Homo sapiens: one gene and its partner. The protein of the gene in region 1 purifies or fractionates together with the protein of each later gene. This does not show direct contact. Each region holds a gene or a part of one and is shown in the gene's direction. Other genes may lie near its edges.

Region 1 (3,824 bases):
AAGATTTCAGGCGCCCTCCGGAGGATGACTTCAGGCACCCTAGGGAGGAGGACTGGAGGAGGCCCCTTGAGGAGGACTGGAGGCGGCCACTGGAGGAGGATTTCAGGCGGTCTCCCACGGAGGACTTCAGGCAGCTCCCCGAGGAGGACTTCAGGCAACCCCCTGAGGAGGACTTAAGGTGGCTCCCAGAGGAAGATTTCAGGCGGCCACCTGAGGAGGACTGGAGACGGCCCCCAGAGGAGGACTTTAGGCGGCCTCTTCAGGGAGAATGGAGGCGACCACCCGAGGATGACTTCAGGCGGCCCCCAGAGGAGGATTTCAGGCATTCCCCTGAGGAGGACTTCAGGCAGTCACCCCAGGAGCATTTCCGGAGGCCACCTCAGGAGCATTTCCGTCGGCCACCCCCAGAGCATTTCCGGAGACCACCTCCAGAGCATTTTAGGCGGCCTCCCCCAGAGCACTTCCGGCGGCCACCCCCAGAGCACTTCAGGCGGCCACCCCCAGAGCATTTCAGGCGCCCGCCCCCGGAGCACTTCCGGAGACCGCCCCAGGAGCATTTCAGGCGGCCGCCTCAGGAGCATTTCAGGCGCTCCCGAGAGGAAGATTTCAGGCACCCACCAGATGAAGACTTCAGGGGCCCTCCTGATGAAGACTTTAGGCACCCTCCTGATGAGGACTTCAGGAGCCCCCAGGAGGAAGATTTTAGATGCCCTTCTGATGAGGACTTCAGGCAGCTCCCAGAGGAAGACCTTAGGGAAGCTCCGGAGGAGGACCCTAGACTTCCTGACAATTTTAGACCTCCTGGTGAGGATTTTAGGAGCCCGCCTGATGATTTTAGAAGTCACCGCCCTTTTGTGAATTTTGGTCGCCCAGAAGGTGGCAAGTTTGATTTTGGAAAGCATAATATGGGAAGTTTTCCTGAGGGGAGATTTATGCCTGATCCAAAAATAAATTGTGGTTCAGGTAGAGTAACTCCTATTAAGATAATGAATCTTCCATTTAAAGCTAATGTGAATGAAATTTTAGACTTTTTCCATGGTTACAGAATCATACCTGATTCAGTTTCGATACAGTATAATGAGCAAGGCTTACCTACAGGGGAAGCCATTGTTGCTATGATAAACTATAATGAAGCTATGGCTGCTATTAAAGATCTAAATGATAGGCCAGTTGGGCCCCGAAAAGTTAAGTTAACTTTGCTGTAGAGAGAGAGCATTTCTAAATTCAGTTATCTTCCTTGCAGTATTGATGGAGTAAAATACATTTGTTTTAAAAAAGTGTTTTTTTTTTAAATTATCTAATGAAATATTTTATTTTTGACCTGTGAATAGAACAAATGTAAATAGTAGAATGTGAATCTGGTTTTCTTTTGCTTGCAAATTGCCATTCTTTTTTTTTTTCAAATTTAAAATTACACATGCTGTTTTTTTCTTTGATGGGGAGAAAGAACTCATTCCCTGAGTTCATTCATTTTTGTTGATGTCATCGGTAATCTTCAAGACTTATTGAAGTAGAGTTGTATTTGGGGAAGATACATTTTATATTCACTTTTTTTTTTCTTTCTGTAGTCTACCTCTTTTACTCAAACTGTATAAGGAAATAGTGACTGATTGTTCAGGTTTGGCATTTTCATTGCTACCTGCCTGCAGAATTAATGCCCTCTTCCTTGTCTAAGATATTACTGTGTTAAGTGTCCTGTTAATTATAAATAGTTCAAAATGGACAGACTGTCAACTTGAAATTTACTTATGTAAAAAGCTTAGGTGATTCTTAGGGTTTCCATGTTCATAACTTTACAAAGCTTTATAAAAATAAAATTGCAACTTAATAGAGCTAATTAACTTGTATTTGTATAAAAAGAAAAAAGAATTGCAGCTCGATATTGTGAAGTTTTTCAATAACTTCATTAAACCATATTTATGATGGGAGGGACCAGACATTCTATAGTAATAATGTATAGTGCTGTGTATAATTCCATGGTTTCTTCAACATCTTATCAACCAAGTAAAATTAATACAAGATACGCAAAAGATAGTAAAATAAGAATCTAATTATAGGTGCAAGGGGACTCAGGCTTATGCTGGAAGAATCTGACAAGTGGTATAGTTTGTTTTTCTAGGAAGAATTTACTGATGAGTCACATAACTTGCATGTAATATTAGGTTCTCATTTTTTAGCTTCGAAACTGTGTCCATGCAAAGACTCTATAACTGTTAAGACTTGTGTGGTTGAATTTTGACTTCTTTGATATTCAGCATTTAGTGCATACATTTTGCAACTAGGGAATTTGATTTTCTATACCCACAATAATATTTATGGCTAACATTTATTAGGCACTTACTATGTGCTAGGCACTGTAAGCACTTTACATGCATAATCTCGGTATTCCCTGTGAGTACAGGGTTAATTATTTACCTCTATTTCACAAATGAGATAATGAAGTGGGATGAAGTGCGAGGTTAAGCAACTTGCTTGAAGTCATAGGTAGTAAATCGTGGGGCCAATTTTAACCCAGACAGACCACTGACTCCAGTTCATGCTTTTGCTGCCTCACTTTTTTAAGTGGTATTTTTAATTAGGAAGACCATGCTAAAGATACTTTCAAGGATAAATGATTATTTTCTCACTTCAATTGTTGGTTTAAAATTAGCATAAATAGGTAAAACCAGCATGCTCAAACACTGAGCTCAAACATTAACATTACTAATAAAAAAAAAAAGAGTGACTTTAAAAGTTTCTTTCTATCCAGGGTTTCTCTTGGGATACTCATATGGTATATTACTGGCTTATATTTCAAAATTATTTTATTCAACATGATTGACTTTGGCCTTTTATAATTTACATAAAACATAATTTTCCTCAGTTCTGTAATCCAGATTTTCCCCATTGAGTAAATAATACAATTAAATTTACATATGGTAATTTAGACATTTAATAGGATATTGCATAGGTAGAATACTTTGTCAGTACTTAGTTACTACCTATATGTATTTTTGTGTTACTTTTCAGTGATTTAAAGAAATCTAACAGAAATCTGCTTAAATTTGTTTTAAATAGTGAATATCCTGCTTGCTATGGAATGAATAAACAGGTAAATTTGATATGAAAAAGCACCTCAGTATGATTCTTTAAAGTATAAGCTTGTAAGTAGCTAGGATAATGTTAAATTGATTGTTTGGAATATCCAAACCAAGCACAATGAAGAAAGTAGAAATGATATTTTTAATTGAGCAAAGATTGTATAGATGGTTCATTTGGTCACCCATTTTGAATAATATATGGAAAGTTAAAAAATGCTTCTCAGATACAAAGGAATAAAGCTAAGATGAAGCTTAACGTGAGGGATTACTTACTGTGGAATTGCATTTCAAACTGGGCTGAGGTGGGATGGTGGTGGTAGATAAGAGGCCAGCTAGAGTAAACATAAGCTTTGTAGTTTTATTATTTTAAGAGTCAGAGTCTTGTTCTGCTGGCCAGGCTGGAGTGCAGTGGTCTGATAATGGTTCACTGCAGCTTCTAACTCCTGGGCTCAAGCTGTCTTCCTGCCTCAGCCTCCTGAGAGCTGGGACTACAGGTGTGTGCCACCTTGTCTGGCTAAATTTTTTATTATTTGTAGAGACAGAGTCTCACTGTGTTGCCCAGGCTGTTCTCAAATTTCTGGCCTCAAGCAATCCTCACTCCTTGGTCTCCCAGAATGTGTTGGGATTACAGGTGTGAGCCACTGTGCCCAGCCTTGTATTTTGATTTTTAAATTAATTTATATGAATATTTCCTTTTACCCTATAATGTATCAGGGCTTAATATTTTTAAACTTCATTATAAAA
Region 2 (3,824 bases), on another chromosome or scaffold:
GATAAGCACATACTTATGGGAAGCACATAGCACACACCCCAGTGTGGACTTTATCCAGAGGCAATGAGGAGTTAGTGGATAGTCTTAAGTAGGAGACTAACATGCTCTGACTTGTGTTTGGAGACTATAGAAAAGCAAGGATTATAAACAAGAGTCCAGCTAGCAGACTTTTTTCTTTTCTTCTTCTTACTCTCTTTCGCTATAACTGCATCTCTCCAAAGGTGGGGATCTGAGGCATGTATCCACTGATCCCCGCTCCAATTGGTTGAAGGTTGCCATTGAAAGCAGTCCCTCCTGTGCATTTTGAGATTGCTGTTAGGAGCCAGCTGTGATTGCGGGACAGAAAAACTGAGTCTCCAAAGTGTGCTTGAAGTGGGAACAATGGCAGTGTAAATGGAGCTGTCCACCACAGCTGTGCTGAAATCTGGCAGGCTGACAGGACTTAGCACAGAGTTTTTGCTATAGGAGGCCTTTGCAGTAATCTTAATGAGAAATCATGGTGGCTTGGACCACTGTGGAGGTAGCATTGATAAGATCTGCTGATGGATTGGATAACTCACATGAAAGATAGGAGGGAGGATCATCCCAGGATTTTGAAAGTAATGGAATTTTTACTTACTGAGCTAGAGAAGTGTATGAGAGGAGCAGATTTTTGGGAGTCATGGAGGATGAATTGAGTTTGGTTTGGTTTGGGACATATAAGTTTGAGATACTTATTTGACCTCTGAATGGATAGGTAGTTAATAAGCTGGATACTAGAGAGAGGTCTGGGCTAAAGCTGTATATTTGGGAATCGTCATTTTGTAAGTTGTGTTTACATCTATGAGACTACAGACTCCTTTAATGAATAAGCATAAAGAGGTCTGCTGGGGCACTACAATATTTTCATGTCAAGGAATGAGAAAGGACTAATCAAAGATACAAACAAAGAGGGACCAATGAGGTAAGAGGATAGGAAGAGAGAATGGGTTCCCAGAAGCTCAATGAAGAAAGTATTTCAAGAAGGAGCTGATTAGGTGCTGCTGATGTGTTCTCATTCAGGTTTCAGTTGGAACAAGGGGAATAAAGGGAGGACTGAGGTGTTATATTTAATAATAGTTCACTGGAGATACCAAAACACCTTTGTTGGTGAAATAGTGGGGATGGCACCCTGTTTTCAGTGAGCTTAAGAGAATATGAGGGGAGAGGAATTAGGAAAAAGAGAGTAGAGACAATGCTTTATAAAGGAGTATCGCTGTAAAGTAGATGACTATATAATGACTGATCATGGAATTTAAGTTCAGTAAAGAAGGAGGTGAGAGAAGTGAAAGGTATAGGACCAATGGATTGTAGATCCTGGAGAGGTTAAAGAATTTTTGGAGTAAGGAAACTGGAGAGAGTGAGCTGGAAAAATAGTGGTAGTTGTGAAGAATGAGGTGTTTGAAATTGAGCTTATAGAGGACATGTAGGTACAAGTAAGACTAAATGTGGGAGTTGGTGGCTGAAGGAGGTAGAAGACAAGATCATTGGTGAAGAGGAGGTCAGTGACTTGATGATTCAAGTATAGGAAAGGTTATCTGTATGGGTATTGAAATCATTAAGAATGATGACAGGAAAAGTATTGGAGAGTGATAATAAGGTAGGTGCTAAGTCTTTGTGAAATGTGAGGAAACGACGTGGGCATTTACAGATGAATTCAACAGAGCATGGCGGCAGGTGGTATAGGCTAATGGCATGAGCTGCAGAGGTAGGAGGTTTTAGGGAGGAAGGTGGGGTAATGGCCTGGAAGTGGCAATGGAAAATAAGGAGGATATTCATCCCTCTCTGGCTTCAAGGGGTGTGGAAGAGAAACAGCCACCACTAGAGAAGCCTGCAGGGAAACAGTTTCTCATCCAAGTTTCAGTTAGAGCAAGAAGGGAAAGGCAATGTTCAGAGAAGAGTTTGAGGATATAGTTTATTAATAGTGTTAATAAACTGGTACAGTGGGAAAACTGTTGACTACTTTGGCATATTAGGAATGTTTTAATTAAAGTGGAAAAGAGAAAAATGAAACAAAAATTGGTGGTGTAATAAACAATTGTCACTTTAAAATAATGATTTCATTAATTCCTCAGAAAAGTAAGACTATTTTTCCACATGCTGGTTCTTTGCTTGTTATATCCTCCAATCCCACCTCCCACCAACCCCTCCCTGGTTTGTCCTAGGGAAGGAGCTGGAGAGAGAAAAATATTGAGAGGGATGTGAAATTACTAATGGAGTGAGGGTTTTGTAGAGACAGAAGAGAACAGGATCCTGAGCACAAGCTGAGGTTTTAAGAATGTGTGCATAATTGTGTTAATGGGTCAAAGAGATGGGGAATTGTTTTCCATCTGATGGCTTCTATTTTCTCATTAAAATAGGAAGTAAAGCCATCTGTTTTGTATGATGTAAAAGGGGGCAGGGTTTGGTAGAGGTTGATGTTGCCTTGCTGGAGAATGGGAAATAGCTCACTTGATAAAGAAATATTTCTAGACAAATTATAAAATCTGTTTAGGCTAAGAATTCATTTTGTAAAGGCACCGGTTTCGGTGGTTTGATGAACTTCTCTAGAAGTCTCAGCATACTGGGTACAGGAATGGAATAGCCAGATAACTGGATTAATTCAGATTGGGGTTTGTTGACAGAGATAGAATAAAAGGATTAAGGGCAGAGAACCAAGGAGGCTGTTAGGCAGGTGTTTGAAGGAATGTACTATATAGCATATGATTAAGATATGGAAGGTAGCAGAGATAGAAGGAGACCGAAAAGGAGAAAGAAAAGAATTCAACATTCTGGAGATCTTGATGAGGTAAAGGGATTGGTATATTGGGTTAAGGGCATGAGATACCTGGAAAGACGTGGTGTTTTTCAGGGAATGGGAAGTTGGAATATAAGATTTCAGATGTGGTACAGTTCCAGATAATGACAAAAGTCTGAGATGTGTCTTTTGAAGTGCATGGCTGAAGCACAGTGGAGGAGATAATGTTTGGAGTGAAGGAACTGGAAAAACTGACAGCCTAGATGCTAGAGGATTAGATGGTTTGTCCACATGTATGGTGAAGTCACCAGATATATTGGCAGGAACTGGGATAGACAGGGACCCAGGTGCTGAAGTCTTTAATGAAGGAAGGATGGTGCTTACGAGATAGAAGACAGTGTTGATTGGAGTCGAGGGTGATCTAGCTGGATGGTGGCCTTAAAGCAGCATTACTTTGTAGATGTTTATGTGACTAGAACAGCGAGATGGGTTGAGGTTCTGGTGTATTTGTGTGTATTATTCTTTCCTCACACCATCATATACCTGTTGTTTATCTCTTCTGCTTCTACTTCTTAATTACTTGTAAGATTTTTTAAAAGTCAATAGCTTTATTCATAGAAAATAACTAATGAATAATTGTGACCTTGTTGAGTTTAACGGCTCATTTTTCTTATTTCTTTGTGGAGACTAATACGATTGGTTTACTGGGCAGGAGGAACTAGACATTAGAACACTGCAAACCAAAAATCGCAAGCTGGCAGAAATGTTGGATCAGCGGCAGGCCATTGAAGATGAACTTCGTGAGCACATTGAAAAACTGGAACGACGACAGGCCACTGATGATGCCTCACTATTGATTGTCAACCGATACTGGAGTCAGGTAGCTAACTTGTTTATTTGTTCAGATTTTTATTTGACCAATTTAGTTCTCCTTACTGTTCTCTTCATTTCCAAAGTTGTGTCCTTTGTTTCTTCATAATTGTACCTACCCTTCTCCAGTTTGATGAAAACATCCGTATCATCCTTAAACGTTATGATCTGGAGCAGGGCTTGGGAGACCTACTCACAG

Evidence for each region.
Region 2: the proteins of RBM12B (region 1) and RNF20 purify together in Homo sapiens (affinity purification with mass spectrometry; one large-scale study listed by BioGRID and IntAct). This does not show direct contact.

Annotation. Positions count from the first base shown.
Region 1 is NC_000008.11:93,730,786-93,734,609, reverse strand, and holds part of RBM12B (RNA-binding protein 12B), read left to right. Parts: coding exon 1-1,205; 3' UTR 1,206-3,824.
Region 2 is NC_000009.12:101,536,736-101,540,559, forward strand, and holds part of RNF20 (E3 ubiquitin-protein ligase BRE1A), read left to right. Parts: intron 1-3,467; coding exon 3,468-3,635; intron 3,636-3,754; coding exon 3,755-3,824. UniProt on the Homo sapiens protein: Component of the RNF20/40 E3 ubiquitin-protein ligase complex that mediates monoubiquitination of 'Lys-120' of histone H2B (H2BK120ub1).